Homo sapiens: one gene and its partners. The protein of the gene in region 1 interacts with the protein of each later gene in a biochemical or structural test. Each region holds a gene or a part of one and is shown in the gene's direction. Other genes may lie near its edges. The genes, in order: RAD23B, RPA1, TRPV4, ATXN3 and PSMC2.

Evidence for each region.
Region 2: the proteins of RAD23B (region 1) and RPA1 form a complex in vitro, tested with the Homo sapiens proteins (one study listed by BioGRID).
Region 3: the proteins of RAD23B (region 1) and TRPV4 interact in a test that uses a peptide from one of them, tested with the Homo sapiens proteins (one large-scale study listed by BioGRID).
Region 4: the proteins of RAD23B (region 1) and ATXN3 form a complex in vitro, tested with the Homo sapiens proteins (one study listed by BioGRID).
Region 5: the proteins of RAD23B (region 1) and PSMC2 form a complex in vitro, tested with the Homo sapiens proteins (one study listed by BioGRID).

The regions. Positions count from the first base shown.
Region 1 is NC_000009.12:107,323,447-107,330,156, forward strand, and holds part of RAD23B (UV excision repair protein RAD23 homolog B), read left to right. Parts: intron 1-443; coding exon 444-571; intron 572-1,387; coding exon 1,388-1,558; intron 1,559-6,096; coding exon 6,097-6,210; 3' UTR 6,211-6,710. UniProt on the Homo sapiens protein: Multiubiquitin chain receptor involved in modulation of proteasomal degradation. Binds to polyubiquitin chains.
Region 2 is NC_000017.11:1,835,136-1,841,845, forward strand, and holds part of RPA1 (replication protein A 70 kDa DNA-binding subunit), read left to right. Parts: intron 1-6,710. UniProt on the Homo sapiens protein: As part of the heterotrimeric replication protein A complex (RPA/RP-A), binds and stabilizes single-stranded DNA intermediates that form during DNA replication or upon DNA stress.
Region 3 is NC_000012.12:109,821,601-109,828,310, reverse strand, and holds part of TRPV4 (transient receptor potential cation channel subfamily V member 4), read left to right. Parts: intron 1-708; exon of another isoform or gene 709-1,501; intron 1,502-6,710. UniProt on the Homo sapiens protein: Non-selective calcium permeant cation channel involved in osmotic sensitivity and mechanosensitivity. Activation by exposure to hypotonicity within the physiological range exhibits an outward rectification.
Region 4 is NC_000014.9:92,075,583-92,079,082, reverse strand, and holds part of ATXN3 (ataxin-3 reference isoform), read left to right. Parts: intron 1-3,500. UniProt on the Homo sapiens protein: Deubiquitinating enzyme involved in protein homeostasis maintenance, transcription, cytoskeleton regulation, myogenesis and degradation of misfolded chaperone substrates.
Region 5 is NC_000007.14:103,359,050-103,365,759, forward strand, and holds part of PSMC2 (26S proteasome regulatory subunit 7), read left to right. Parts: intron 1-2,907; coding exon 2,908-3,039; coding exon of another isoform or gene 3,040-3,043; exon of another isoform or gene 3,044-3,418; intron 3,419-3,636; coding exon 3,637-3,709; intron 3,710-4,294; coding exon 4,295-4,390; intron 4,391-5,093; coding exon 5,094-5,258; intron 5,259-6,710. UniProt on the Homo sapiens protein: Component of the 26S proteasome, a multiprotein complex involved in the ATP-dependent degradation of ubiquitinated proteins.

The DNA.
Region 1 (6,710 bases):
CTCAGATTGTGTTCTTTTAGGGGTTTTCATTGTTTATAAAGTAAGTGAGTTTTTGTTTTTGTTGTGGTGTATATTTTTCTTAGGAACTTTTAAGCAACAGGAACAACTTTTAGTACTTTTTATTTTGATAGAACACACACAGGAGACAAGTTTCTAGTATTATTTTATAACGTTGAGTGCCAAGGGCAATTATAGGAAAGTTTGGTTCATATTACAGTCAGCGTTCTGCACTCCCTGCCTTTGCTAATAGGAGTAATTTTTGCCGTATAAAACTTGCAAGTTGGTACAGTTGGAAGATTTCATCATTATTTACTTCATTTTATTACATCTGAGAACTCAAATCATTTTTTCTTTGATAGTGTTTGCTGTCTAAATGTATTATTTAACCACTGTTTGTGTATGTATTTACTGCTTTTGTTTAGAAATGTTTATGTGTATTTTAGGACATCCCCTTGAATTTTTACGGAATCAGCCTCAGTTTCAACAGATGAGACAAATTATTCAGCAGAATCCTTCCTTGCTTCCAGCGTTACTACAGCAGATAGGTCGAGAGAATCCTCAATTACTTCAGGTGACTAATCAGTGTCAGTTTCACAAGTGATTTAGAGTGTGTCACAATTTGAAAAAGTCCATGAACGGTCCTTCCCCTCCTCAAATACAACTCTGTATTTGAGAATGTGAATGTTTTCTTCCAAGCTACACTTAGATATTGTAATCTAGATAGGTGTACTAAAAAAACAGTTGGGATATGGAGGTTGGGTTAAATTAAGTTGACCAAATAGTAGTAAGTTTGGGAAACATTTTATATTTCCTTTTTGGAGATTCCCACTACACATTAATATGTTAAAGAATTTGGGAAGCTGTTTAACAGAGAAACTGCCTAACTTTAAATCACTTTTCACAAGCTTATTACTCAGTTCCTTTTTCTTAGGAACTTTTAAGCAACAGGAACAACTTACTCTTAGAAAAAATAGCTGTGGGGCTTCTTTAGTGATCAGATCACCAAGTATTTGAATTTTATACAGCATTTTAATGCCCACTAGTGTGGAAGGTAAAAAATACATGCAAGTATTAAGAATAAGTTCTATTCTTATAGTCCCACAGTAGTTTTTTTTGTTTGTTTTTTGTTTGTTTTGTTTTTTTAAGCACAGGAGGCTCAGAGCACTTAAGAATTTGAATTTCTTCACTGTTTACTTTGCCCAAAAGTACTGAATTTCTTTACTATTGTATAAGAAATCACATCCTTCCAAAGACTGAATAATCCAGAATCACTAAATTACGTTTGCAAAAGTGTAGCCTTTTCTCTTAGTAATATTTAGAATTTCTCTGTTCCTGCAGATACTTAATATCAGTGTATTATTTTTCTCTGTCCTTCATATCACCACAGCAAATTAGCCAACACCAGGAGCATTTTATTCAGATGTTAAATGAACCAGTTCAAGAAGCTGGTGGTCAAGGAGGAGGAGGTGGAGGTGGCAGTGGAGGAATTGCAGAAGCTGGAAGTGGTCATATGAACTACATTCAAGTAACACCTCAGGAAAAAGAAGCTATAGAAAGGGTGAGTTTAAGTAAAACTTTAAAAAAATTAGTTCTTGGCTGGGCTCATGCCTGTAATTCCAGCACTTTGGGAGGCCAAGGCAGGTGGATCACCTGAGGTCAGGAGTTCAAGACCAGCCTGGCCAACGTGGTGAAACCCCATCTCTACTAAAAATACAAAAATTAGCTGGCGTGGTGGCACATACCTGTAATCTCAGCTACTTGGGAGGCTGAGGCAGGAGAATTGCTTGGACCTGGGAGGTGGAGGTTGCTGTGAGCCGAGATTGTGCCACTGCACTCCAGCCTGGGCAACAGAGTGAGACTCTGTCTCAAAAAAAAAAAAAAAAAAAAAAAAAAAATTCCTTAGTCACACTAGCCCCATTTCAAATGCTCAGAAGTCACATATTAATAATAAGGTTTTTCTATAATTTCTTTCAATAGTGTCCTGTAGTTTTCAGTGTAGAAGTTGTGTAATACTTTTGTTAAAATTATTTCGAAGTATTTTTATTCTTTTTGATGCTGTTATAAATGGATTTTTCTCTTAATTTCATTTTCAGACTGTTCATTGCTAACTATATAAAAATACAATTTAATTGTGTATATTGATCTTTTATCATAAAACCTTCTTGAACTGTTATTTATTCATTAAGTAGTTTGTGCATGTGTTCATTAGGATTTTCCATATACAAGGTCATGTCATCTGCACATGGAGACAGTTTTACTTCTTTTCCAATATGGATACCTTTTATTTCTTTGTCTTATTTAACTGCCCTATCTGGAGCCTCCAGTATATTATTAGACTAGCAAGAACCAACAACATCCTTGTCTGGTTCTTGATCTTAAGGGAAAGCATTCAGTCTTTCATCACTAAGTATGATATTATCTATGGGTTTTTTGTGGATGCCCTTTATCAGATTGAAGAAATTCTCTTCTGTTACTAGTTTGTTCATCACGAAAAGGTGTTGGATTTTGTCAAATTTTTTTTCTTTCTTTATTAAGATGATCATGTGATTTTTGTCCTTTAGTATGCTTTATTACATTGATTGATTTTGTATGTTGAACCAACCTTGCATTTCTGAGATAAATTTTACTGGTTACAGCATATGATCTTTTTTATATGTTGCTGGATTTAGCCTGCTTGTATTTTGTTGAGGATTTTTGCATCTGTTCATAAGTCATATTGGTCTGTAGTTTTTTTGTGATGTTTTTGTCTGAATTTGGTGTCTGGGTAATACTGGCCTCTTAGGGTGAGTTGGGAATTATTCTCTCCTGTTGTCTGGAAGTATTTATTAAGAATTGGTGTGGGCTAACACGGTGAAACCCCGTCTCTACTAAAAATACAAAAAAAATTAGCCAGGCGTGATGGTGGGCGCCTGTAGTCCCAGCTACTCGGGAGACTGAGGCAGGAGAATGGCGTGAACCCGGGAGGCGGAGCTTGCAGTGAGCCGAGATTGCGCCACTGCACTCCCGCCTGGGCCACAGAGCGAGACTCTGTCTCAAAAAAAAAAAAAAAAAAGAATTGGTGTGAATTTTTTGAATAGTTGATAGAATTCACCAGTAGTCTGGTCCTGGGCTTTTTTTGGGGGGAAGTTTTGTGATTATTGATTCAGTCTCTTGTTACTTGTCTATTCAACTTTTGTATTTCTTTTTTTTTTTTTTTTTTTTTTTTGAGACAGAGTCTCGCTCTGTTGCCCAGGCTGGATTGCAGTGGCGTGATCTCCGCTCATTGCAAGCTCCACCTCCTGGGTTCACACCATTCTCCTGCCTCAGCCTCCCGAGTAGCTGGGACCACAGGCACCCGCCACCATGCCCGGCTAATTTTGTTTTGTATTTTTTTAGTAGAGACGGGGTTTCAACATGTTAGCCAGGGATGGTCTCGATCTCATGACTTCGTGATCCACCCGCCTCGGCCTCCTAAAGTGCTGGGATTACAGGCGTGAGCCACTGCACCCGGCCAACTTTTCTATTTCTTTTAGAGTCAGTTTTGGTGGTTTTTGACTTGGAATTTGTCTATTTTATCTAAGCTGTCTAATTTGTTGGCGTGCAATTGTACATATTTCCTTATAATCATTTTATTTCCTCTTTTGATAAAGTAATAATGTTCCTGCATTTATTCCTGATTTCAGTCATTTGAGTCCTAAGATATTTTTGTTTTTTCCCTTCAGTTTAGCTAAAGGTTTTAATTTTGTTCATTTTGTGGTGGTTGTTGTTAATGACAAAAATAACTTTGGGTTTTGTTGATTCTCCCTATTGTTTTTCTAGTCTTTTGTTTTGTTTTGTTTTAAGTCTCTCTAATGTTTATTTCCCTCTTGCTTGCTTCTAGTTTGTTCTTCCTTTTTTAGGTTAGGTTTAGTTTAGTTCTTTGTTTAGTTTTAGTTTAAGATTAAATTATTATCTATCTTTGTTAGCATAGATGTTTATAGCTATAATATTCCTTCTGCGTTTATGCTATAGTAGCATCCCATAAGTTTTAGTATGTTGTATTTTTGCTTTCTTTCATCTCAAAATGTTTTTTAATTTCCCATTTGGTTTCTAATTTAATTCATTCGTTATTTAGGATTGTGTTAATTTCCACAAGTTTATGAATTTCCCACATTTTCTCCTTTCGATTTCTAAATTCATTCCATTATAATCAGAGAATATACTTTCAATACTTTTCAACTTATTGAGGTTCGTTTTGTGGCCTAACATGGTATTTCTGAAGAATGTTCTATGTATACTGAAGAAGAATATAGTGTAGTTCTTATTAAGTGGTCTATAAATATCTGATAGATCTAGTTTGTAGTCAAGTCTTCTTCCTTAGCTGTTTTATCTATTATTGAAGGTGGAGCTGTAGTTGTCTCTATTATTGTTAATTGCCAATTTCTACCTTTAATTCTCAGTTTTTATTTTATGTATTTTGTGGCTCTGTTATATATAATTGTTGTGTCTTCCTGAACCCTTTTTATCATAAAATGCCTTTTGTCTATAGTAACAATTTTTATCTTAAATCTGTTTCCTCTGATATAGCCATTCTAGCTCTTTTTTGGTTACCATTTGCATAGTATATACCTTTTTCTATCATTTTACTTTCAACCTACTTGTGTCTTTGAATCTAAATTGTGTGTTTTGTAGAAGCAGGCAGTTGGATTGTACCCTTTACTTCACCTATCCTAGCTTTAATCTGGATAAAACCCAGATAACAAACTGATTTTTTAGTTTCTTCTGCTTTCATAGATGAATAGTTATTCGTGATGAATTGGGATTTTTGCCCAAATTTTAAGGGTTATTTCCAAATATAATCTGACACAGCAGTCTTTAACCTTTTTGGCACCAGGGACCAGTTACGTAGAAGACCTTTTTTTCTACCAACATAGGTGGGGTGGGCGCAGTGATTTTGGGATGAAACTGTTCCACCTCCGATCATCAGGCGTTAGTTAGGTTAGGAAGTGGGGTGGGGCGGTGGTTTTGGGATGAAACTGTTTCATCTCACATCATCAGGCATTTGTTAGGCTATCATACGGAGCACAGACCCTAGATCCCTCTCATGCACAGTTCACAGTAGGGTTCATGCTCATATGAGAATCTAATGCCGCCACTGATACAACAGGAGACGGAGCTCAGGTGGTAATTCGAGTGATGGGGAGTGGCTGTAAATACAGATGAAGCTTCACTTGTTCGCCCACTGCTCACCTCCTCCCGTGCGGCCCAGTTCCTTGCTCACCCACTGCTCACCTGCTCCTGGGCAGCCCAGTTCCTAACAGGCCAATGGCTGGTGCCAGTTCACGGTCTTGGGGTTTGGGACCTGTGATCTAACTCAAGGTGATTGAGACAATTGAGGAGGGTGACATTTGGCTGAGTTTTTAAAGGCTTTTAAAAGGAGTGAGTATTGTCACAAGTGATTTTTAATATAATAGACTAGGAAAATGAAATTAAGTAGCTGGTATTACCATTTAAAATGCTGTAACTGTTAAGCAGATAAAAATAGAACATTATCTTCAAAATGTACCATGTATTACTAATAATTGGTCACCTGTTTTTCTAGTATGGAGTGTTGAATAAAGCAAGGAGATTGAGAGTGATGTTTGATCCAAATGAAAGACATGAGTTGACATTAATAAATAAAACATAATTTGCTTTTAATTTAGAAATAGGTGAGGTGGTTAAACTATACTGCAGGTACTCTCATCCTTATCTTCACTCTTAATATACTAAAAGCCATTTGATTTACATATTTCTGTAGAGTCATTTATTTTTAAACCATAGCAGTTAGCAGCTAATTTTTAATTAGGCCAAAGAGTATTTGCATAGTATCTATTAAGCTTTAACTAGAAACAAAGACTTTTTTAGGTGATTAGTAAAGGAAAGGGTCTAGATTCCATCTAATCCCTTGGGTTGGGCAGTAAATCCATATTGATAGAGATGAATTCATGTAAAATTCTCAAGAGCTTTTTTGGGTTGCAGTATGTTTTTGAGTAATGATTTATCTTTAGTGCTATGCTGGAATCTATAATATGTAAATAAAATTAAATGTGCCATAATTGGTGTGTTGGATTTATATTTTTTTCCTTTTTCTTCCAGTTAAAGGCATTAGGATTTCCTGAAGGACTTGTGATACAAGCGTATTTTGCTTGTGAGAAGAATGAGAATTTGGCTGCCAATTTTCTTCTACAGCAGAACTTTGATGAAGATTGAAAGGGACTTTTTTATATCTCACACTTCACACCAGTGCATTACACTAACTTGTTCACTGGATTGTCTGGGATGACTTGGGCTCATATCCACAATACTTGGTATAAGGTAGTAGATTGTTGGGGGTGGGGAGGGAGGGATCTAGGATACAGGGCAGGGATAAATACAGTGCATGTCTGCTTCAATTAGCAGATGCCGCAACTCCACACAGTGTGTAAAATATATACAACCAAAAATCAGCTTTTGCAGGTCTTTATTTCTTCTGTAAAACAGTAGGTAACTTTTCCTAGGTTTCACTCTTTTTAGTGTACTAGATCCAGAAACTTAGTGTAATGCCCTGCTTTATATTTCTTTGACTTAACATTGGTTTCAGAAAGAATCTTAGCTACCTAGAATTTACAGTCTCTGTTTCATGGCAACACTGGATAATGGCTTTGTGAAATTTAAAAAATTTTTGTAGCGACTGTAAACAGAAATGCCAAATTGATGGTTAATTGTTGCTG
Region 2 (6,710 bases), on another chromosome or scaffold:
CCATTGCACCTGGCCGTAATTTTTTTTAAATGACAGAGTCTTGTTCTTTGTCTCTCAGGCTGGAGTGCAGTGGCATGATCATAGCTCACTGCAACCTCCAACTCCTGGGCTCAAGTGATCCTTCCACCTCAACCTCTCCAGTAGCTGGGAGTACAGGTGCATGCCACCATGCCCAGCTAATTTTTTTTTTTTTTAATTTTGTGTAGAGATGGGGTTTCGCCATCTTGCCTAAGCTGGTCTCTAACTCTTGGTCTCCAAACAGTTCTCCTGCCTTGCCTCCCAAGTCTTTGGGATTATAGGCATGAGCCACTGTGCCTGGCCTTGTCCCTTAAAATGAGTTACATTTGTAAACAGCTGATTTCTTTGGAGCATCGTCCCCATATACTTTTCTTTCATAAGTGATCTCATCCTTCTTCCACCCAACCTTCCCCTTGAATTTGTTGTTTGTTGTTGTTTCCATTTTAGCAGAATTCATGTTGCTCTGATAGGGGCTCTTTTCAAACTGATGTCTTATCCTTCTTAGTACCTCAAACTAGGTCTTGTTCAGACATGTTATAACAAGTTAGTATGAGTTTATTTTAGTGCAAAAAAAATTTTTGAAATGCATGCATAGTTTTTTCATAATGCACATTTTTCGTGTACTTTTTGAATCCCCCTCATACATGCACGTGGTTTTAAAATCAAACGGAACAGAAAGGTGTTCATGGCCGGGCATGGTGGCTCACATGTGTACTCTCAGCACTTGGGGAGGCTAATGCAGGAGGATCCCTTGAGGCCAAGAAAGAGTTTGATACCAGGCTGGGCAACATAGCAAGATCCTGTCTCTATTTCATTTAGAAAGAAGAAAGAAAGAGGTGTTTAATGTAATTACTGACCTCCTGCCTTACCTTGTCCAGTACTGTTCCCCAGAATAACTGCTTTTTAGAAAAATCACTGTCATTGACATTTTGCTTACGTATAGTAAATTGCACCTTTTTTATTTATTTATTTATTTATTTGAGGCAGAGTTTCCTCCTGTCACCCTGGAGTGCAGTGGCGTGATCTCAGCTCACTGCAACCTCTGCCTCCCAGGTTCAAGCAGTTCTCATGCCTCAGTCTCCTTAGTAATTGGGGTTACAGGTGCACGCCACCACCTGGCTAATTTTTGTATTTTTAATAGTGATGGGGTTTCACTATGTTGGCCAGGCTGGTCTCGAACTCCTGACCTCAGATGCTCCTCCTGCCTTGGCCTTCCAAAGTGCTGGGATTACAGGCATAAGCCACCATGCCCGGCCAAATTGCACGTATTTTAAATGTACAGCTTGATGAACTTTGACAAATGTGCGCACCCCTGTAACCACATTGCCCCTGTGGAGATATAGAATACTTCCATCAACGCACAACTCCTCTTGCTCCTTCCCCACCTCCATCCTCACCCTAGGCAACCAGTGTTCTGGTTTCTACCTTTGTAGGTTAGTTTTGCCTTTCCTAAGACTTCATATAAATGGAATCAAATAATATCTATCCTTTTGTGTCTGGCTTCTTTCAGCAGTTTTTTTTTTTTCCCCAGAGGTAGGGTCTCTGTCACCCAGGCTGGAGTGCAGCGACACAGTCATGGCTCACTCCAGCCTTGACCTCCTGAACTCAAGAGATCCTCGCACCTCAGCCTCCTGAGTAGCTGGGACTACAAGTGCATGCCACCACTCTTGGCTAATTAAAAAAAAATTTTTTTTTTTTTTTTTGAGACACAGTCTTGCTCTGTTGCCAGACTGGAGTGCAGTGGCGCAATCTCAGCTCACTGCAACCTCTGCCTCCTGGGTTGAAGCGATTCTCTTCCCTCAGCCTCCCGAGTAGCTGGGATTACAGCCGCATGCCACCATCCCCAGCTAATTTTTGTATTTTTAGTAGAGACGGGGCTTCACCACGGTGGTCAGGATGGTCTCGATCTCTTGACCTCGTGATCCACCCGCCTCAGCCTCCCAAAGTGCTGGGATTACAGGTGTGAGCCACCACGCCCGGCCTAAAAATATTTTTTGTAGCGATGGAGTCTTGGTGTGTTGTCCAGGATGATCTTGAACTCCTGGGCTCAAGTGATCCTCCCACCTTGGCCTCCCAAAGTGTTGGGGTTACAGGCACAAGCCACCACTGTGGACCAAAATGGTTTTTGAGATTTACCCATGTTAATTCAGTAATCTGCACCTTTTTATGGCTCAGTAGTATTCCATTGTATGACTATAACAAAATTTGTTTATTTACTTATTATTGCACATTTGGGTTATTTTCATCTTTTGGCTATTATAAATGAAGATGCTATGACCATTTAAGTACAACTCTTTTTGTGGAAATATGTTTTCGTTTCTCTGGGATAAATATCTAGGAATGTAATTGCTGGGTCACAGGTAACTGAATGTGTAAAAGAAATCGCCAACCTTTTCCAGTGTGATCATGAGAATTCTAGTTGCTCCATATCCTTGCCAGTCATCAGTCTTTGATTTCGAGTATTCTAGTGAATGTGTAATGGTATCTCACTGTGCTTTTATTTGTATTTCTCTGGTGGCTAGTGACGTTGAGCATCTTTTCGTGGGCTTACTGGCCATTTGTATATCTTCACGAAAGAAGTGTCTGTTCACATCTTTTGTTCACCTAAAAATTGGGTTTTGTGCTTATTAATGAGTTGTGAGAATTCTTGATTCTTGCTAGGTCTTTTGTTAAATATAAATATTACATATATTTTTTCCCAATCTGTGACTTGCCTTTTCTTTTTTGAAATTTTGTTTTTTTTGAAGTGCACTTTTAAATTTTCATGAAGTCCAAGTTATCAGGTTGTGTTTTTTTGTTTGTTTTTGTTTTGTTTTTTGCAGAGTTGTGTTTGTGTGTCCTAAGAAATCTTTGCTAGGCTGGATGTGGTGGCTCATGCCTGTAATCCCAGCACTTTGGGAGGCTGAGGCGGGCGGATCACCTGAGGTCGAGAGTTCGAGACCAACCTGGCCAACATGGAGAAATCCCGTCTCTACTAAAAATACAAAATTAGCTGGGCGTGGTGGCAGGCACCTGTAGTCCCAGCTACTCGGGAGGCTGAGGCGGGAGAATGGCGTGAACCCGGGAGGCGGAGCTTGTAGTGAGCCAAGATCGCACCACTGCACTCCAGCCTGGGCAACAGAGCAAAACTCCGTCTCAAAAAAATAATTAAATAAATAAAATAAAAACAGCAGGGTGCAGTGGCTAACGCCTGTAATCCCAGCACTTTGGGAGGCAAAGCCGGGCAGAACACCTGAGGTCAGGAGTTCGAGACCAGCCTGACCAACATGGAGAAATCCCGTCTCTACTAAAAATACAAAATTAGCCGGGCGTGGTGGCGCATGCCTGTAACCTCAGCTACTCAGGAGGCTGAGTCAGGAGAATTACTTGAACCCAGGAGGTGGAGGTTGTGGTGAGCCAAGATCGCACCATTGCACTTCAGCCTGGGCAACAAGAGTGAAACTCAGTCTCAAAAAAAAAAAAAAAAAAGAAATCTTTGCCTACCCGACCCAAGGTCACAAATCTTTTATGCTGTGTTTTCTTCCAGAAGTTTTATAGTTTTCGCTTTGCCTTGTGGTCTGTAATGCATTTCAAGTTTACTATTTTATCTATGATATATAGCTCTTTTTTAAATACAGATATTCAGTTGTTCCAGCCCTGTTTATTGAAAACACTATCCCATTTCATTGAGTTACTTAGTCACTTTATTTATTTATTTTTTTAATTTTTTATTTTTGAGATGGAGCCTCGCTCTGTCACCCAGGCTGGAGTGCAGTGGCACGATCTCGGCTCACTGCAAGCTCCACCTCCCGGATTCACAGCATTCTCCTGCCTCAGCCTCCCGAGTAGCTGGGACTACAGGCACCCGCCACCATGCCCGGCTAATTTTTTTTTGTATTTTTAGTAGAGACGGTATTTCACCGTGTTAGCCGGGATGGTCCCAATCTCCTGACCTCGTCGTGATCCACCTGCCTCGGCCTCCCAAAGTGCTGGGATTACAGGCGTGAGCCACTGCGCCCGGCCCCTTAGTCACTTTATATAAAATCAATGGACTGTATATGTGTATCTGTTTCTGGAATGTCAATTGATTTCTATGTTGGTGCTTATGTCAATACCACATCATCATAAACATTGAAGATTTATAGTAAATCTTGAAATCTGGCATTGTAAATTCTCCAGCTTCATTTTTATTTTTTATTTTTTATTTTTTTTGAGATGGAGTCTAGCTCTGTCGCCAGGCTGGAGTGCAGTGGTGAGATCTCGGCTCACTGCAACCTCCACCTCTCGGGTTCAAGCGATTCTCCTACCTCAGCCTCCTGAATAGCTGGGATTACAGGTGCCCGCCACCACACCCAGCCAATTTTTATATTTTTAGTAGAGACGGGGTTTCACTATGCTGGCTGGGCTAGTCTTGATCTCCCAACCTCATGTGATCCACCTGCCTTGGGCTCCCAAAATGCTGGGAGTACAGGCGTGAGCCACCGTGCCTGGCCTCTAGCTTCATTTTTTTTTTTTTTTGAGACAGGATCTCACTTAGTCATCCAAGCTGGAGTGCAGTGACATACATGATCATAGTTTACTGCAGCTTTATCTCCCTGGCTCAAGTGATCCTCCCTCCTCACCCTCTGAGTAGCTGGGACGACTGCGCCCAGCTAGTTTTTTTTTTTTTTTTTTTTTTTTTGAGACAGGGCTTTACTATCACTCAGGTAGAGTACAGTGGTGCCATCTCACCTTACTGCAGCCTCTGCTTCCCAGATGCAAACAATCCTCCTGCCTCAGCCTCTCGAGTAGCTGGGACTATAGGCATGTGCCACCACACCCAACTACTTTTTGTATTTTTTGTAGAGACGGGGTTTCACCATGTTGGCCAGGTTGGTCTCGAACTCCTGACCTCAAGCGATCCTCCTGTCTCAGCCTCCCAAAGTGCTGATCCCTTTGCATACACTGAAGTATAGAGAAACAAAGTACAATAAAAAAAAAGAAAAAGAAAATGAAAACAGACGTTTGTTTGTTTGTTTTGAGACAGGGTCATGCTTTGTCACCCAGGCTGGAGTGCAGTGGTGCAATCACAGCTCACTACAGCCTAGACCTCCTGGGCTCGAGTGATTCTTCCTCAGCTTTCTGAGTAGCTGGGACTACAGGTGTGCACCACATACCTGGCTAATTTTTTTTGAGATGGATTCTTTCTGTGCTGCCCAGGTTGGAGTGCAGTGGCGCGATCTCAGCTCACTGCAACCTCCGCCTCCCAGGTTCAAGCAATTCTCCTGCCTCAGCCTCCCAAATAGCTGGGACTACAGGCACGTCCCACCACGCCCGGTTAATTTTTTATATTTTTAGCAGAGACAGGGTTTCACCGTGTTAGCCGGGATGGTCTCAATCTCCTGACCTCGTGATCCTCCCACCTTGGCCTCCCAAAGTGCTAGGATTACAGGCGTGAGCCACCACCTGGCTAATTTTTTATAGAGACAGGTCTCCTTCTGTTGCCCCGACTGGTCTCGAACTCCTGAGCTCAAGCGATCCTCCTGCTTCCGTCTCCGAAATGCTGGGATTATAGGCAAGAGCCGCCGTTTGCAGCCTTGTTGGTAGTTTTCGGTGTGCAGTTCTTACATATGTATACTGTTAAATATATCCCTAAATAATTTACTTTTGAAGCCTGGCACGGTGGCTCACGCCTGTAATCCCAGCACTTTTTGGGAGGCTGAGGCGGGCAGATCACCAGAGGTCAGGAGTTTGAGACCAGCCTGGCCAACGTAGTGAAACCCTGTCTCTACTAAAAATACAAAAATTAGCCAGGTGTGGTGGTGCATGCCTGTAACCCCAGCTACGCGGGAGGCTGCAGCAGGAGAATTGCTTGAACCCGGGCATTAGAGGTTGCAGTGAGCTGAGATTGCACCACCACGCTCTAGCACGACAGAGCGAAACTCCGTCTCAAAAAAAATAAAATAAAATAAAGAAAGTTCTTTTGATGGTGTTTAAGTGGCATTTTTGAAAATTTCATTCTTCAGTTGTTTATTGCTAGTATATTGAAATACAAGTGATTATTCCACACCAGCCTTGTGTCCTGCAAACTTGCTAAATCAACTTACTAGTTTTTATAGATACCTTAGGATTTTCTATGTAAACGATCATATTGTCTACAAATAAAGGAAGTTTTATCTGTTCCTTTTTAATCTTTTTATTTTTTATTTTGAGAGGGAGCCTCACTCTGTCGCCCAGGCTGGAGTGCAGTGGTGCGATCTCAGCTCCCTGCAACCTCCGCCTCCTGGGTTCAAGCGATTCTCCTGTCTCAGCCTCCCCAGCAGCTGGGATTACAGGCATGCGCCACCACGCCCAGCTAATTTTTAAATTTTTGATGGAAACAGGGTTTCACCATGTTGGCCAGGCTGGTCTCAAACTCCTGAGCTCAAGTGATTTGCCCGCCACAGCCTCCCGAAGTGCTGGGATTACAAGCCACCTTGCCCAGCCAGTTCCTTTTTAATCTTTATGACTTTTTTTCCCTTGCCCTATTGCATTAGTTAGAACCTCTAATACCACATTGAATAAAGGTGTTAAGAGGTATATCCTTGCCTTATTCCCAATCTTAGTAGCATATTATTGTCTTTTACTGTTAAGTGTGATGGTAACCGTAGATTTTTTTTGTAGACGTCAGCTATCAGTTTAAGCATTACTTCTATGCCTAGTTTGCTGAGACTTTATAATGAGTAAGTGTTGCC
Region 3 (6,710 bases), on another chromosome or scaffold:
AAGGAGGTTACATCACTTCTCTGAGCATGTTTCCTCATCGGTGAGGGAGGATCACACGAGACCACACCAGGCGCACAGGAAGCCCTTGCCGGTCTCCAGATGAGGTCAGGGCATTGGAAAGGCCACAGAAGGAGGCGGGGGCTCAGGGGACAGACAGGCGGGCCATTGACCAAACGGGAATATCCTTCTATTTCTTTGGTTAGTGAGTAACAGCAGCCCCTCTTGTCCACCCACCCTGCCCCTTGCACAAAGAGCTCCTCAGTCTCACCAGGCGCCCGTTTTCCCCTGAGGGTGGAGTGGCCTGGGTTCCACCCGGTTGACCGAGTGGGCTGGCCACCTTCTGGGACCATTCCCTGTGTGTGTGTTTGTGTACGTGTGTATGTGTGTGTATATTGATGTGCGTGTGTATGTGCGTATGTGTGTCTGTGTGTGTATGTGTATGTGTGTATATGTATGTCTATATGTGTATGTGTATATGTGTATATATGTGTATGTGTGTATATGTATGACTATATGTTTATGTGTATGTTTGTGTATATATGTGTGTATGTGTGTATATGTATGTCTGTGTGTATGTGTGTGCATATGTGTATGTATATACATGTGTATGTGTGTATGTGAATGTCTATGTGTGCATGTGTGTATGTGTGTGTATGTTTGCGTGTATATGTATGTATGTGTGTATATTGTGTGTATGTATGTGTATATGTGTGTAATGTGTATATGTATTTGTGTGTAGTGTGTGTGTGTGTGTGTGTTTATGGAGGGTGGGTTCCATGGGCTTTGGGCTGAGACCCCAGCAGGTGAGGGTGGGACAGGGGGCATGGGGTTGACTGACCCATGGGTCTGGCTCACTCCTGTCCCTGCTTGGCACACAGGAGGGGCTCAGGAATACCTGTAGATAGAGTGAAGGGATGAATGAAGGAAGGAATGAGTGACTGGACAAGCCAGCCAGGCAGGGCATCAGAAGGAAGCACCTGCTCAGATACAGGCTCTGGCTCTGAGACCAAGTGTGCTTGAGTGAGTGTCCTGGTCTTGTTGAGCCTCAATTTCTTCATCTATAAAATGGGCTCACGATAGTTGTCCTCATGAGAGGTGTTGGTCTTATAGGCCAGAAAACCCCACACATAGCAGGTGCTCCGTAAGCTGTCTGTTAAAAAATGGATGGGAGGAAGCTAATTAGTTAGCTGGGCAGAGGTTCGCTTTGGAGACCTGTCTGCCCTGGAGAGAATGACTAAGCCCGTCTTTCACTCCTTTCCTCTGTTCATTCATTCATTCATTCATTCATCCAGCAAATACATCTTGAGCAGCTGCTATGTGCCAGGACCTGTTCCAGGCATCTGGGCCTCAGCAGTTACCAGAAGGGAGTCCCTCCGCCCTAGAGCTTTTGTCCGAGTGACATCATTCCACACGCAGTGCTTTGAGGCCACTTTGTGAGACTCTGATACCCACAATGACAAGTAATCCAGCAGTGGGAACTGTGATGAGCTCCCTTTTACAGGTGAGGAAACTGAAGCTCGGAGAGGTCAAGTGATCCGTCTGGGGCCACGCAGTTACTAAATGGCAAAGTCAAGATTCAGACTCCAAGCCTGTCACCACTGTGCCATCTTGTCCTGCTGAGTTCCAAGGGATATGGCGTTGAGAAGGGGGGTCCTAGGGAGAGGGCATGGTAGCCCCCAAAGGGATGAATGAACTCAAATGGATTTAAAAGCAGATGGTTGGAAGTCTAGCCACATTCACTTCCTGTAGCGTTGTGGACTCAGTTAAATCTCATTCTTTCTGATCTTCAGTTTGTTCATCTGTGAAATGATAACAATAACACCGACCTCAAATGAGAGAGAAATGTGAAAGTGCTTAGCATATGATAGGTATTGGATAAATGTCAGCCCTTACCTCCTTTCCCCCGGGACTGACTTTATACATCTGGGAATGGAGACAATAATATTTAATGTCTATAGTTATTATTTGGATTAAAATAGATAGAAGGGGCCAGCCATGGTGGTTCACGCCTGTAATCACAACACTTTGGGAGGCCAAGGTGTGTGGATCACGTGAGCCCGGGCATTGGAGACTAACCTGGGCAGTAGAGTGAGACTCCATCTCTACAAAAAATAAATTTTAAAAGTAGGAATGGTGGTACATGCCTGTGGTCCCAGCTTCTGGGGAGGCTGAGGTGGGAGGATTGCTTGAGCCTGGGAGGTCGAGGCTGCAGTGAGCTATGATTGTGCCACTGCACTCCAGCCTGGGTGACAAAGCCATACCCTGTCTCAAAACAAAAAACAACCAAATGGGAGGTGCTGTGTGAAGTGTGCCATGGAGGGTAGGCATTACTGATGGTACATTGCAGGCATTAGCCTCAGTCATAATTCCAAGCAGTTAACCCCTGAGGCAGCAGCTTACTGTTGGCACAGACTGGTGTTGAGGTGGGCTGGGACAGAGGAAGGATCTCAAACTGGTTTTCTGCTGCCTTGGGCTCCCTTCCCCGACTCCTGCCCCATCCACTCATAACGGGCACCTGCCCTCTTCCCCCTCCTCTGATTTGGCAAACTCGGGACTTTTGCTCCTAGAAGTGGGGTAGAGGAACGTATGCATGGACGAGTGTCCTGTCCCTTCTGGTCCTTAGTCTCCCAGCTGGGAGGCAGCCCTTGTCCTGACAGCCTTCTAAAGGTGACAGAAGATGGAAATGAGGTGGCGAGGAAACCCTTTCCAAAGGTGAGGTCTCTGCAGTCACGAGCCCTGGTTTTGGAGCCGGGAAGTCTGGGTTCCAGTGCCTGCCCAGTTCTGACCTCCCTGGACCTCAATGTCATCATCCCCCACCTCCCACTGCAAACTGAGGGAATGTTAGCAAGAATGGCAAAGCAGCCATTGAACATCCTTATCTGTAAAATGGGGGTAATAATTGCTACGACCTGGGTGGGGTTAAGCTGTATTTGCTCCATAGTTATTTGGTATACAGTACATTCATGCTTTAAACTAAAAAATAAGTTCAAGTTCATTGAACACTTGGTGTTTGTTGGGCACTGCACTGAAGGCTTGAATTATCACATTTAATCCTCACAATAGCTCTTTGGGGTAGGAGCTGTTATTTTATTTTTTAATATTTTAAAAAATAAATAAATTTATTTATTTTTTGTAGAGATGGGATCTCACCATTTTGCCCAGGCTGGTCTCGAACTCCTGGGCTCAAGCGATCCTCCCACCTTGGCCTCCCAAAGTGTTGGGATTACAGGTGTGAGCCACTGCACCCAGCCTTATTTTTTAGTTTAAAGCATGAATGTGCTATACACCAAATAACTATGGAGCAAATACGGCTTAACCCCACCCAGGTCGTAGTAATTATTACTCCCATTTTACAGATAAGGAAACCAAGGCCCAGAGATGAGATGTGACTTGTGCAAGACCATACAGCCAGTGAGTGGCAGATGAGATGTAAAGCATTGATCAGGCAACGTTCTCAGACTATAGAATCCTCTCTGGAGTTCTCCGTGGCTGTGACCATCCTCTAGGAGAGGGGCTAGGCCAGAGAGAAGGCGGGCCTAAGGTTTTGTTTTGTTGAGATGGAGTCTCGCTCTTGTCGCCCCCGCTGGAGTGCAGTGGTGCTATCTCTGCTCACTGCAATCTCTGCCTCCTGGGTTCAAGAGATTCTCATGCCTCAGCCTCCCGAGTAGCTGGGATTACAGGTGCATGCTACCACACCCGGCTAATTTTTGTATTTTTGGTAGAGATGGGGTTTCACCATGTTGGCCAGTCTGGTCTTGAACTTCTGACCTCAAGTGATCCGCCCACCTCGGTCTCCCAAAGTGCTGGGATTACAGGCGTGAGCCACTGCGCCCGGCCGGACTAAGAATTTGATGCCTCCCTCCTCCTGGGCTGGAGCTGAGTAGCATGTTCTCAAGCAGGGCTGGCTGAGAGGGTGGAATCCTGGGGCTATGCTCTGATGGGAAGGAAGCGAGATAAGGGAAGAAGGACCTGGAGCCTCCTGGGGTAGTGACTTTGTATCCTTGAGCTCCTACTACGTGCCAGACCTTGTTTGAAACCCTTTATGTGGCTGGGCACGGTGGCCGACGCCTGTAATCCCAGCATTTTGAGAGGCCGAGGCGGTCGGATCACCTGAGGTCAGGAGTTCGAGACCAGCCTGGCCAACATGGTGAAACCCCGTCTCTACTAAAAATACAAAAATTAGCTGGCGCAGCGGTGGGCACCTGTAATCCCAGCTACTTGGGAGGCTGAGGCAGGAGGATTGCTTGAACCTGGGAGACGGAGGTTGCAGTGAGCCAAGATTGTGCCACTTATACTCTAGCCTGGGTGACAGAGCAAGATCCTGTCTCTCTCTGTCACACACACATGCGCACACACACACACACACACAAGAAAGAAAAAAAAGAAACCCTTTATGTGTGCTTAATCTCCATGACATTCCCATGTTGCAACAAGGAAACTGAGGTTCTGGGAGGGAAGTGACCTGCCTGAGGTCACTAAGCCTGGAAGGGTCATTTAGATGTAATTCACATACTCATAACTCAGTCTTTTAAAACGTACAATTCAGTTGGTTTCTTAGTGTATTCAGAGTTGTACAGACATCAGCACTATCTCATTCCAGAACATTTTCATCACCCCAAAAAAGGACTCTGTACCCATTAGCAGTCACCACTCCCCACTCCCAGCCCCTGGCAACAACTAATCTGCTTTCTGTCTCTGTGGATTTGCCTGTTCTGGGCATTTCATATAAATGGAATCCTGCAATATGTGGCCTTTTGTGTCTACAAGGTGCATGCTCTTAACCATTAAGCCACACCGCTTCTTGGTGGCTCCTACCCAGGGGCCGGGACCCTTGGAAATGACTTGGTCCCTGTGAAAGCTCAGAGGGGCATCTGTGTGTGCTGTCAGCCGGCCTCCCTCCAGCCAAGGGCTTGCAGAATGACCAAATGACTGCCGTGGCCACGCTGGCCTTGCCCTCCGTGGGGCGCGGTGAGTCACCCCAGACCTGCCCTGCCTGGGTGGTGTGAGTGCATGGGGTGGGGGCCCAGCAGGACACTGGGGCTCTGTCTGTCCTGGACAGGCGGCCACTGTGCAGCAAACAGGAAGCGGGCTGGGCCGAGACCTGCTAGGTAAATACAGGCTGGCCAGGGAAGGTGCTGGGCATGGCATGATGCCCCCCTACTGCTGCCGCCTGCCAAGTGCCTGGGAGCCGTGGGGTAGCCTGGCAGGCAGTAGGTTTCGCCTGGCCAAGGAGTTGAGCTCCCAGCCGGCTGTTCCCAGCAGCCGCCACTTCGAGGTGGCTGCCAGAGTCTACCTCCAAGGCTCTGGATCTGGCCGCTCTGCCTTCTCTAGGAGTCATTGCCTTCCTTGGTCCTCAGTCCTTTTGTTCATCTGTTCCCCTAATGATACTAATAAATAGTACACTGATACTGATGATTCCAACAGCAGCCATGCTTGACTGAATGCATGCTCTGTACCAGGCACTGGGCTCAGTGTTTTGCATGCTTTATCTCATGTAACCCTCACGACAGTTCCCTTGGGGTAGGTGCTAGGATCATTGCCATTTTTCAGGTGAGGAAACCGAGGCATGGGCAGGCCAGGTGACTTGCCCAGAGCTGGTGAACTGGTGGTTCGTCAGGGACTGCGACCCATCCCCCACTCCATTCTTTCTCCAGCTTCTCCCTCCCAGAGTTCCCTTGTCTTTGTAAAGTGTCCATCAAAGGCGCAGGTCCCGGGGATGCATGGGTTCTAATCCTGCCTCCCCCTTTCTGGAGCAAGGCAATGCCAGACAAATGACTTCGCCTCTCTGAGCCTCAGTTTTCTTACCTGGAAGGTGGGGAGGGGGTGGACAGGTCTGGGATTTTCTCTCTAGTAACAGCAAAGCTCAGAGTCCTTGTCTTCCTAGTACCTTCCTATCCACATGTCCCCGGCAAGACTGATTTGGAATGGCAGGCACTCACAGTTGTGTTTATTTGAGGGTACCACAGGAAGTGGGGGCCCCCAAATTGGCTAAGGAGCCCCAGGGTGGAGGGAGGTAGAAGCACACTGGGTCTGTCTGGGAGCCTGAGCACCTTCTCTGTGGGCTCCTTCCTACCCATGGATTCCAACCCCCACCCACCTCCCCACTGCCCACCCACTCACCCATCTCTTCTGCTTTCCTTCTCCCTGTGCCCCAGGCCACACCATTCCTCTGTGCACCCTGCACTTTCCCCTCTACACCTTTGTCCTTGACACCTCCTCTGCCCTTTATCTTCCTCCTCCTCCTCCTCACAGCCTTTCCCCCTCCCCATCAGGATTCTGGCTGCCCTTGCTCTGCAACCCTGCCTGGAACTTCAGGTCCCTGATCTTACAGCCTAAAAAAACCAAATATTCATTGACACCTCATTTTGCTTCAGCACCATGCTGAATGCTGGGGACACAGGGGACACGAAATAGTCCCTACCACATGGAACTAAAACTCTGGAGGTGAAGAGAGAAGATGAATCAAAGAATAATATATAGGCCGGGTGCGGTGGCTCACACCTATAATCCCAACATTTTGGGAGGCTGAGGCAGGTGGATCATCTGAGGTCAGGGGTTCAAGACCAGACTGACCAACATGGCAAAACCCTGCCTCTACTAAAAATACGAAAAATTAGCCGGGTGTTGTGGTGCATGCCTGTAATCCCAGCTACTCGAGGAGGCTGAGGCACGAGAATTGCTTGAACCCAGGAGGCGGAGGTTGCAGTGAG
Region 4 (3,500 bases), on another chromosome or scaffold:
TCCCAAGTAGCTGGGATTACAGGTACACACCACCATGCCTGGCTAATTCTTGTATTTTTAGTAGACACGGGATTTCACCATGTCGTCCAGGCTGGCCTTAAACTCCTGACCTCAAGTGATCCACCTGCCTCGGCCTCCCAGAGTGCTGGGATTACAGGCATGAGCCACTGAGCCCGGCCCAATCTCGTTTTATAATACTCCCATCTCCCATTCTTTCCACTGTCCCACCTGCAAGTTTGGATTATTTTGTAACAAATCTCAATCATCATATTATTCTATAACCATTTTAATATGTGTCTCTAAAATATATTAGCTTTATTTTTAACATAGTTAAATGCTATTGTCATAAAATAATAATCATAATAATTAATTGTAATTCTATATCATCAATTATCTAGTTAATGTAAAAAATAAATCTAAGGCCAGGCGCGGTGGCTCACACCTGTAATCCCAGCACTTTGGGAGGCTGAGGTGGGCAGATCACCTGAGATCAGGAGTTCAAGACCAGCCTGACCAACATGGAGAAACCCCATCTCTACTAAAAATACAAAAAATTAGCCAGGCGTGGTGGCGCATGCTTGTAATCCCAGCTACTTGAGAGGCTGAGGCAGGAGAATCACTTGAACCCGGGAGGCGAGGTTGCGGTGAGCCGAGATCGTGCCATTGCACTCTAGCCTGGGCAAAAAGAGTGAAACTCCATCTCAAATAAATAAATAAATAAATAATAAAAAATAACTTAAATCTACTTAATTAGAAAAACTAACATTCTAAAAATTTTATTTTAAGAAATATCAAAATTGGCTGGGCACGGTGGCTCACGCCTCTAATCCCTGCACTTTGGAAGGCTGAGGTGGGCGGATCACCTGAGGTCAGGAGGGTCAGGAGTACAAGACCAGCCTGGCCAACATGGCGAAACCCTGTCTCCACTAAAAATACAAAAATTAGCCAGGCATGATGATGGGCACCTGTAATCCCAGCTACTCAGGAGGCTGAGACAGAAGAATCGCTTGAACCCAGGAGGTAGAGGTTGCAGTGAGCTGAGATCACCCCACTGCACTCCAGCCTGGGTGACAGAGTGAAACTCCGCCTCAAAAAAAAAAAAAAGAGAAAAGAAATATAGAAATTAAAGCATACATGGCCAGGCGTAGTGGCTCATGTCTGTAATCCCAGCACTTTGGGAGGCTGAGGCAGGCAGATCACTTGAGGCCATGAGTTCAAGACCAACCTGGCCAACATGGCGAAAGCCTGTCTCTACTAAAAATACAAAAAAATTAGTTGGGCATGGTGGTGCACACCTGTAATCACAGCTACTTTGGAGGCTGAGGCAGGAGAATCGTTTGAACCCAGAGGTGGAGGTTGCAGTGAGCCGAGATTGTGCCACTGCACTCTATCCTGGGTGACAGAGCGAGATACTGTCTCAAAAAGAAAAAAAAAAGGCTGGGCGCGGTAGTTCATGCCTGCAATCCCAGCACTTTGGGAGGCCGAGGCAGGCAGATTACGAAGTCAGGAGATGGAGACCATCCTGGCTAATACAGTGAAACCCCGTCTCTACTAAAAAATACACAAAAATTAGCTGGGTGTGGTGGCAGGCACCTGTAGTCCCAGCTACTCTGGAGGCTGAGGCAGGAGAATGGCATGAACCCGGGAGGTGGAGCTTGCAGTGAGCAGAGATCACACCACTGCACTCCAGTCTGGGCGACAGAGCGAGGCTCTGTCTCAAAAAAAAAAAAGAAAGCATACTCTCACCTCCTTCAGTGACTGATGTTAGTATTTTGGCACATTCTTTTTCTGTGACATATACACACTTACCTTGTAAGTGTTGTACTCATTTCCTATGACAGTAAATAGTCTTTGTAACAGGCTGCATGATATTTCATAAAATGAATGGATGTGGCATAATTTATATGTGAGCCTTTTGAATTCTGCTATTATAATTAATATTGCAATGAACAATTCTTATATTGCCTCTACACCTCAAATGTCTTATCATTTCTTCTAGTTTTTCTGAGGATGTCAGATTATTGGGTTAAAGGATATGAACATTTTTAAGGCCTTGGAACAGATTTCTAAATTGCTTTCCAGAATAATTCCCATGTGATACTTTCACCATGTTTATTTCAGACTTTTTTTTTTTTTTTTTTTTGAGACGAAATCTCACTCTGTCACCCAGGCTGGAGTGTAGTGGCATGATCTCGGCTCACTGCAACCTCCGCCTCCTGAGTTTAAGCGATTATTCTGCCTCAGCCTCCCAAGTAGCTGCGGTTACAGGCAAGTGCCTCCATGCCTGGCTAATTTTTGTGTCTTTTGTAGACATGGGGTTTCACCATGTTGCCCAGGCTGGTTTCGAACTCCTGAGCTCAGGCAATCTGCCTACCTCGGCCTCCCAAAGTTCTGGGATTACAGGCGTGCACCACCGCGCCCAGCCATCAGAGTCTTTTTTGTCAAAATAAAATGGTCTAAAGACATACATCATAGAGAAACTATAATACAAAATTTACAGGTATATCTAAGAAAAGAAAAGTATATTTAAAGCATAAAAATAAACTGCTCTTTTACTTAAAATTTTTTAAAAACTGGATTAAAAATATGAAACTTCCAACAAATTGAGCTTTTTTTTTTTTTTTTTTCTTTTTTGAGACGAGGTCTCGCTTTTGTCACCCAGTCTGGAGTGCAGTGGCGCGATCTCGGCTCACTGCAACCTCCACCTCCCTGGTTCAAGCAATTCCCCTGCCTCAGCCTCCCAAGTAGCTGGGATTACAGGCGCATGCCACCACGTCGGGCTAATTTTTTTGTATTTTTAGTAGAGAGGGGGTTTCACCATGTTGGCCAGACTGGTCTCGAACTCCTGATCTCAGGCAATCTGCCAGCCTGGGTCTCCCAACATGCTGGGATTACAGGCATGAGCCACTGCACTCGGCCTGAACTTTTTATAGTAGTAACGATAATTCAGTAATGTCCAATAATGACTAAGTAAGTTATAACAAGTACAATGTCAGCAATAACTAGTGCTTTTTAGTAAACAGGGTCAGGCAACCTTGTACCCTTTTAAAAATGTTCGAATATCGATATACCTCCTTCCTACTTGGTGGAGGATTGATTGAGGAGGAAAGTGTGCAGTGATGGTTACCAGCTTCAGCCTCTTGGCTTGACTTTGCAAATACTGGTGAGAATTTGGAAAGAGCTTGAGAATATCTTACATAGTCACATGTTGCTGAGAAGAGTTAAGAACTAACTTCTTGATGTTCATTTTTAACAATGGCTTGCATTCAAAACCTTGTAGAGCTCATTAGTAGGAGCTAAGAAGCTAATATTTGCCTTTCACTAAAATTCCTGATTACTTAGCCTAGGTAGTTCGTTGTCTCTCTAGGTTCTGTCTTTGGGAGCTTGGGTCTAAGGTTATCAAGCTAACTCTTTCTTCCCTCTCACCCTTCCCAAATTGACCCTGGTGCTGATTTGTTATTCATACGATTTTCTAGTTTTTCTTTTCCCTTTTTGAGTAT
Region 5 (6,710 bases), on another chromosome or scaffold:
CTCAGCTCGCTGCAGCCTCTGCTTCCTGGGCTCCCACCTCAGCCTCCCAAGTGGCTGGGACCACAGGTGCATACCACCCCATGTCTGGCTTTTTTTTTTTTTTTTTTTTTTTTTTTTTTTTAATTTTTAGTAGAGACAGGGTCTTGCCATGTTGCCTGGGCTGCTCTTGAACTCCTAGGCTCAAGCCATCTGCCCACCTTGGCCTCCCAAAGTTCTGGGATTACAGGTGTGAGCCACCGTGCCCAGCCAGCTTATGAATTTTTTTAATAACAATCTTACTGATATAAAATTCAGATATCATGAGGTTCACTCTTTTAAAGTATACAATTTAGTGATTTTTAGAATATCTAGAAAATTGTGCATTGATCATCACTATCTAATTCCAGAATAGAATATTTTTGTCACCCCAAAAACAAACCCAATACCCATTAGCAGTCTTCATTCCCGTCTCTTTCCAGCCCCTGGCAACCATTTATCTACTTTCTGTTTCTATGAATTTGTCTATCCTGGACATATCATCTAAATGGAATCATATAGTACATGGCTTCCTTCACTTAGCATATTTCAAGGTTCATCCGTATTCTAAAATAGATGGAACTTTTTATGGCCAAATAATATTCCAGTCTAATTTCTCTATCTGTATTCACTATTGGTGAGACATTCTTCTCATCATTCCTATAAACTCTTTAGATATGGTTTCCTTTAGCTTTTTGAAAATATTTCTTGTACTGATTTAAGGTTTTTGTTTGACTGGGCGCAGTGGCTCATGCCTGTAATCCCAGCACTTTGGGAGGCTGAGGCAGGTGGATCACTTGAGGTTGGGAGTTTGAGATCAGCCTGGCCAACATGGTGAAACCTGTCTCTACTAAAAATATAAAAATATTAGCTGGGCGTGGTGGCAGGCGCCTGTAATCCCAGACACTTAGGAGGCTGACGCAGGAGAATTGCTCGAACGTGGGAGGCGGAAGTTGCAGTGAGTCAAGATCGCGCCACTGCACTCCAGCCTGGGCAGCAGTGAGATTCCGTCTCAAAAAAAAAAAAAAAGTTTTGTTTAATAACACCAACATCTAGGCTTCTTAAGGGACAATTTCTATTGACTGATTTTTTTCCCCTTATGTATGAGCCATAATGTCATACATAAGGGAAAATGCATTTCATAATGTTTTGCATCTCATAACTTTTTGGTGATAACTAGACATTTAAAATAATGTAATGTGTCACCTCTGGAAATCAAATTCTTCCTTTCCCCAGGGTTTGGTATTATTGCTGTTTGTTGTTCTTGTTTTTCCTTTCAGGTTTTTTGGTCAGCCTCTTTTTTTTTGGTAGAGAATGGGTATAATTCTTCTTCCCTAGCAAACATGGTTGGTAACAGAAAACAGAGTCCTTCACACAATTATGCTATCAGGACAAAGCATTCTTTTTTAGCCTTGACCTCCTGGGCTCAAGTGATCCTCCAGCCTCAGCCTCCTCAGTAGCTGGGACTACAGGTGCATCCCACCACACCTGGCTAAGCCAAAGCATTCTGTACCTTACTTTTAGCTCTACCTATGTGCGCACTCCACAGGCTATTTTTGTATTTCTCTGTAATTCTTGCTGTGGCTTATGTAGCAGCTTTCTAATGTGAGTTCTGTTTTTTGTTTTTGTTTTTCTTTAGTAGATAGATACTATAGAAGGGGAAAGGCGGTTGACTATTTTATACTGTGATGTGCATGGCATTATAAATTCATTTTTACCAGGCCATATGGAAATGAATATAATTAAGTTAAAAATAGCTTCTACTGGCCGGGTGCAATGGCTCACGCCTGTAATCCCAGCACTTTGGGAGGCCGAAGCAGGTGGATCACTTGAGGTCGGGAGTTTGAAACCAGCCTGGCCAACATGGTGAAACCCCGTATATATTAAAAATACAAAACAATTAGCCGGGCGTGCTGGCGCATTCCTGTAATGCCAGCTACTTGGGAGGCTGAGGCAGGAGAACTGCTTGAACCCAGGAGGCGGAGATTGTAATGAGCCGAGATCGCACCACTGCACTCCAGTCTGGGCTCCAGAGCAAGACTCTGTCTCAAAAAAAAGAAAAAGAAAAAAAAACAAGCTTCTACTGCCTCAGTTAAAAAAAGAAAAAAGTAGCAAAAACAATAAAAATGGATTTAAAGTCCGGGTGTGGTGGCTCACGCCTGTAATCCCAGCACTTTGGGAAGCTGAGGCGGGCGGATCACCTGAGGTTGGGATTTCGAGACCAGCCTGACTAGCCTGAGGTTGGGAGTTCAAGAGAAACCCCCTCTCTACTAAAAAAAAAAAAAAAAATACAAAATTAGCTAGGCATGGTGGTGCATGCCTGTAATCCCAGCTACTCGGGAGGCTGAGGCAGGAGAATTGCATGAACCCAAGAGGTGGAGGTTGCAGTGAGCCAAGATCACACCATTGTGTTTCAGCCTGGGCAACAAGAGTGAAACTCCATCTCAAAAAAAAAAAAAAAAAAAAAAAGAAAAACGGATTTAAAGTATAAACTCAGGAAAAGAATGAAAACCCATTTATTACTGAATTTGGTGTAAGACAAGATGACCATCTTTTTGTAGGGAAAATAAAAACGAGAGCAACTTAAGATATACAGGAGCATCACTAATAATAAAGGAATACAAACTATGGAAATCAAGAAATCAGAGAACTTCTTAATGATGAGATATTTGGGTTTAATTTTCCAGGAGAATGTATTTGAAAATTTTATGACTTGGCTAAAGTCGAATGGACCTTTGGAGTTGGGTATAGAAAAGGATCTTTAACAGTGTCCCAGTTTCTGTAGTTCTAGTTTATACCTGTATATTGCACACTCAGGATATAATCTAGTTAGTTGAATTCATTATTAGTGGCTTAGGTTCCTTATTCTAATCAAGCTTTTTGCTGTGTTAGGTGTACAAAGATAATCAATGCTGATTCGGAGGACCCAAAATACATTATCAACGTAAAGCAGTTTGCCAAGTTTGTGGTGGACCTTAGTGATCAGGTGGCACCTACTGACATTGAAGAAGGGATGAGAGTGGGGTAAGATTTCTATTTACAATAAATACTTTTCTTTCACTAAGGATACTGTCTCACATTCATATCCTTGGCTTTGTAGTGAATAAATGGACTGAGTTCCTTGGAATACCAAAGGATGATCTAGTAATGTACTATAGTTGAAAATTCTGTCTTCTGCATCTGCTTCCTAACTTCCCATCGGCTTCGCTGACTCCCCTACTCCCACTGTTGTTTATTATGAATGGCTTCAAATTTCAGAGTTGAGGTTACCAGTCCATTTAAGGTAACATGGTATAGGTTGGGGGAGTACTTGCTTTAGGATAGTTGTGATGCTAAGTGTGTTAATGTCTATAGAATACATAACAACTCACTTAGTAAATTAAAAAAAAATCTCCCCTCCCTCCTCAAAGGTTTGATTGCTGTTGGATAGGTTGTTTGCGACATTAGACATGTAGTTTAGTATCCTCAGATTTCATGCTCTCTTTATTTCTCTTTATATAATTAGGGACTCTGTCTCTCTCTTGTTTTCTTAAAGTATGGTTTTGGGGATAAAGGACTAAACATAAAAGCACTTTGAAAGCTTAAAGAATGTATTAATGACTATCTTTTTTACTTCCTTAGCGTGGATAGAAATAAATATCAAATTCACATTCCATTGCCTCCTAAGATTGACCCAACAGTTACCATGATGCAGGTAAGAAACTATGGGAGGGAAAAGGAAGGCTATGTCTTTTTTTTTTTTTTTTTTTGAGGCGGAGTTTCACTCTTGTCCAGGCTGGAGTAGAATGGTGTGATCTTGGCTCACTGCAACCTCTGCCTCCCGGGTTCAAGCAATTCTCCTGCCTCAGCCTCCCGAGTAGCTGGGATTACAGGCACCCGCCACCACGCCCAGCTAATTTTTGTATTTTTAGTAGAGACGGTGTTTCACCATGTTGGCCAGACTGGTTTCGAACTCATGACCTCAAGTGTTTGGCCTGCCTCAGCCTCCCAAAGTGCTGGGATTCCAGGCGTGAGCCACTGAGCCCGGCAGTATTTTATATATATATTTTTTGAGACAGAGTCTCAGCCTGTCTTTATTTTACTAGTTTGTTTTTCATTCATTAGTGTCATAACAAGTTAATACAGCAAGTAGTTCCAGGGCACTGGGCAATGTATTCAATTTTTATTAAAATTCTCACTTGTGAGTTTTTCTTTTAAGGTATTAGGTCTATTCTATTGAATTTGGACAGTATCCAAAAAGCCTGTGACTGTATGTTGTACATTTCTGTCCCTCTCTTAGGTGGAAGAGAAACCTGATGTCACATACAGTGATGTTGGTGGCTGTAAGGAACAGATTGAGAAACTGCGAGAAGTAGTTGAAACCCCATTACTTCATGTAAGTAGCTGAGTGTTGTATTTAAATTTCTTTGTATAAAGATGTCTTTTGTGTATTGAGCACTAAAATTGCTTGTATATTAGATGGCTTTTAATATTTTCCCTAATGAGAGTTTTTTGAGAGGGTGGAGAGAGGAGGTGTGGAGAGTTGGTAAGTTCTAGGGGAGAGCAAGCAAAAAGGATTGAGTGGTCAGGTATATTTAAAAAAGAAAGATCTGCTGTTTACAGTGACAGAGGAGGCACAGTGTAACCTTTAGCAATATGTTAAATATGTTACAGGCTATTATAGAAGAAACTGGTTCTTCAAAAGACATCGAGAAGAAAGGGGCTTAAATTGAAGCAGGTTAAACTTGGGAGGATAATGGAAAACTAGGATACTGAATACCAGATAATTTTGTTCCTTAAACACCATAATTTTTTTTAAATTAGGAAAATATTTTAAGACTGGATAATGGAAGTGCTTTTTAAAAGCCATTTAGTCTTATGTATTGATAGAAGTCCAGTTTAGAACTTATGTCTTAGAATAAGTAAAATTTCTTATTTAGTTCAAGTATGTATATTGTGGACTTAATAATTTTGATTTAAATATTAAAGTATGGTTTTCAGGATAAAATACTAAACATAAAAGCACTTTGTTGATTTAGAAGTAGTCTGATTTTTGTTATACAGAAGTGGTAAGTGTGAAAATTGTGTCTCTATCACAGCCAGAGAGGTTTGTGAACCTTGGCATTGAGCCTCCCAAGGGCGTGCTGCTCTTTGGTCCACCCGGTACAGGCAAGACACTCTGTGCGCGGGCAGTTGCTAATCGGACTGATGCGTGCTTCATTCGAGTTATTGGATCTGAGCTTGTACAGAAATACGTCGGTGAGGTAAAGTAAATTTATCAAAGAATATATAGCCTTGTGAAAGATTTTACAGTATGAATGAAATTAAAAATGGCACTTCTGCATTGAGGGATCCAGACCTGAAATTTCTTTTTTCTTTTGTTGAGACAGAGTCTCATTGTGTTGCCCAGGCTGGAGTGCAGTGACATGATCTCAGCTCACTGCAGTCTCTACCTCTCTGGGCTTAGGCGATCCTCCCATCTCAGCCTCTCAGGTAGCTGAGACCATGGCTACATGCCACCACACCCAGCTAATTTTTCTATTTTTTGTAGAGAGGGGTTTTACCATGTGGCCCAGCTGGTCTCAAACTCCTGGGCTCAAGTGATCCATCTGCTTTGGCCTCCCAGAGTGCTGGTAGTATAGGCAAGAACCACCACGCCCGGCCTGAGACCTGAAATTTCTTGATTGTAATTAGTAGTTTAGAAGCTGCCTTTGTGGTCATTTGGAGATAGGCAACCACTTAAAATTTTAACCAGTATGCCCCCTCCTCAAAAGGGTGACATTTTCTACAGATGTGGCTTTTCTACGGAAATGCCTGGTAAATTAATTAAAAAGTATACTTTTACTTCAGGGGCAGTGTTTTCAGTCCTAATGAGAAAGTGAGAACATAGGTTGTTTTTATGTTTGTAGACATACATATATATATATATATATATATATATTTAGAGAATAAGTCTAGGGCTATATGTATTGTATCTGAAACCTGTTGATGATTCGTATATTTACAATAAGAATTAGCTACGGAGCTGCGTGAGTTGAGGTATCCTTTTATTCCCTAACTAAAACTTGCAAGTCAAATTCAATGATCAGGAATTCCAAGTGATAGATCAGATGCTTTTATTTACTCAAGTTTTACTAATTAGAATGGTTCCTTTATTTAACTATTAATTTGACCTCTTCAGATCTGAAACCTATTGCTATTTAATAGATACAGAATCATGAAAATGACTTAATATTTTAAGGCTGGCAAGATTAATTTGGTGGACTGGGGAGCAAACTTCAGTCTTTTTTAAAAAAAGTTTAGATAGGCCAGGCACGGTGGCTCATGCCTGTAATCCTAGCACTTTGGGAGGCAGAGGCAGGCGGATCACCTAAGGTCAGGAGTTGGAAACCAGCCTGACCAACATGGAGAAACCCCGTCTCCATTGAAAATAGAAAAAGCCGGGTGTGGTGGCGCATGTCTGTAATCCCAGCTCCTCGGGAGGCCGAGGCATGAGAATCGCTTGAACCCAGAAGGCGAAGGTTGCACTGAGCCAAGATCGTGCCATTGCACACCAGCCTGGGCAACAAGAGTGAAACTCTGTCTCAAAAAATAAAATTAAAATAGCTGCGCGCAGTGGCTCACGTCTGTAATCCCAGCACTTTGGGAGGCTGAGACGGGTGGAACATGAGGTCAGGAGTTCAATGCCAGCCTGGCCAAGATGCTGAAACCCCGTC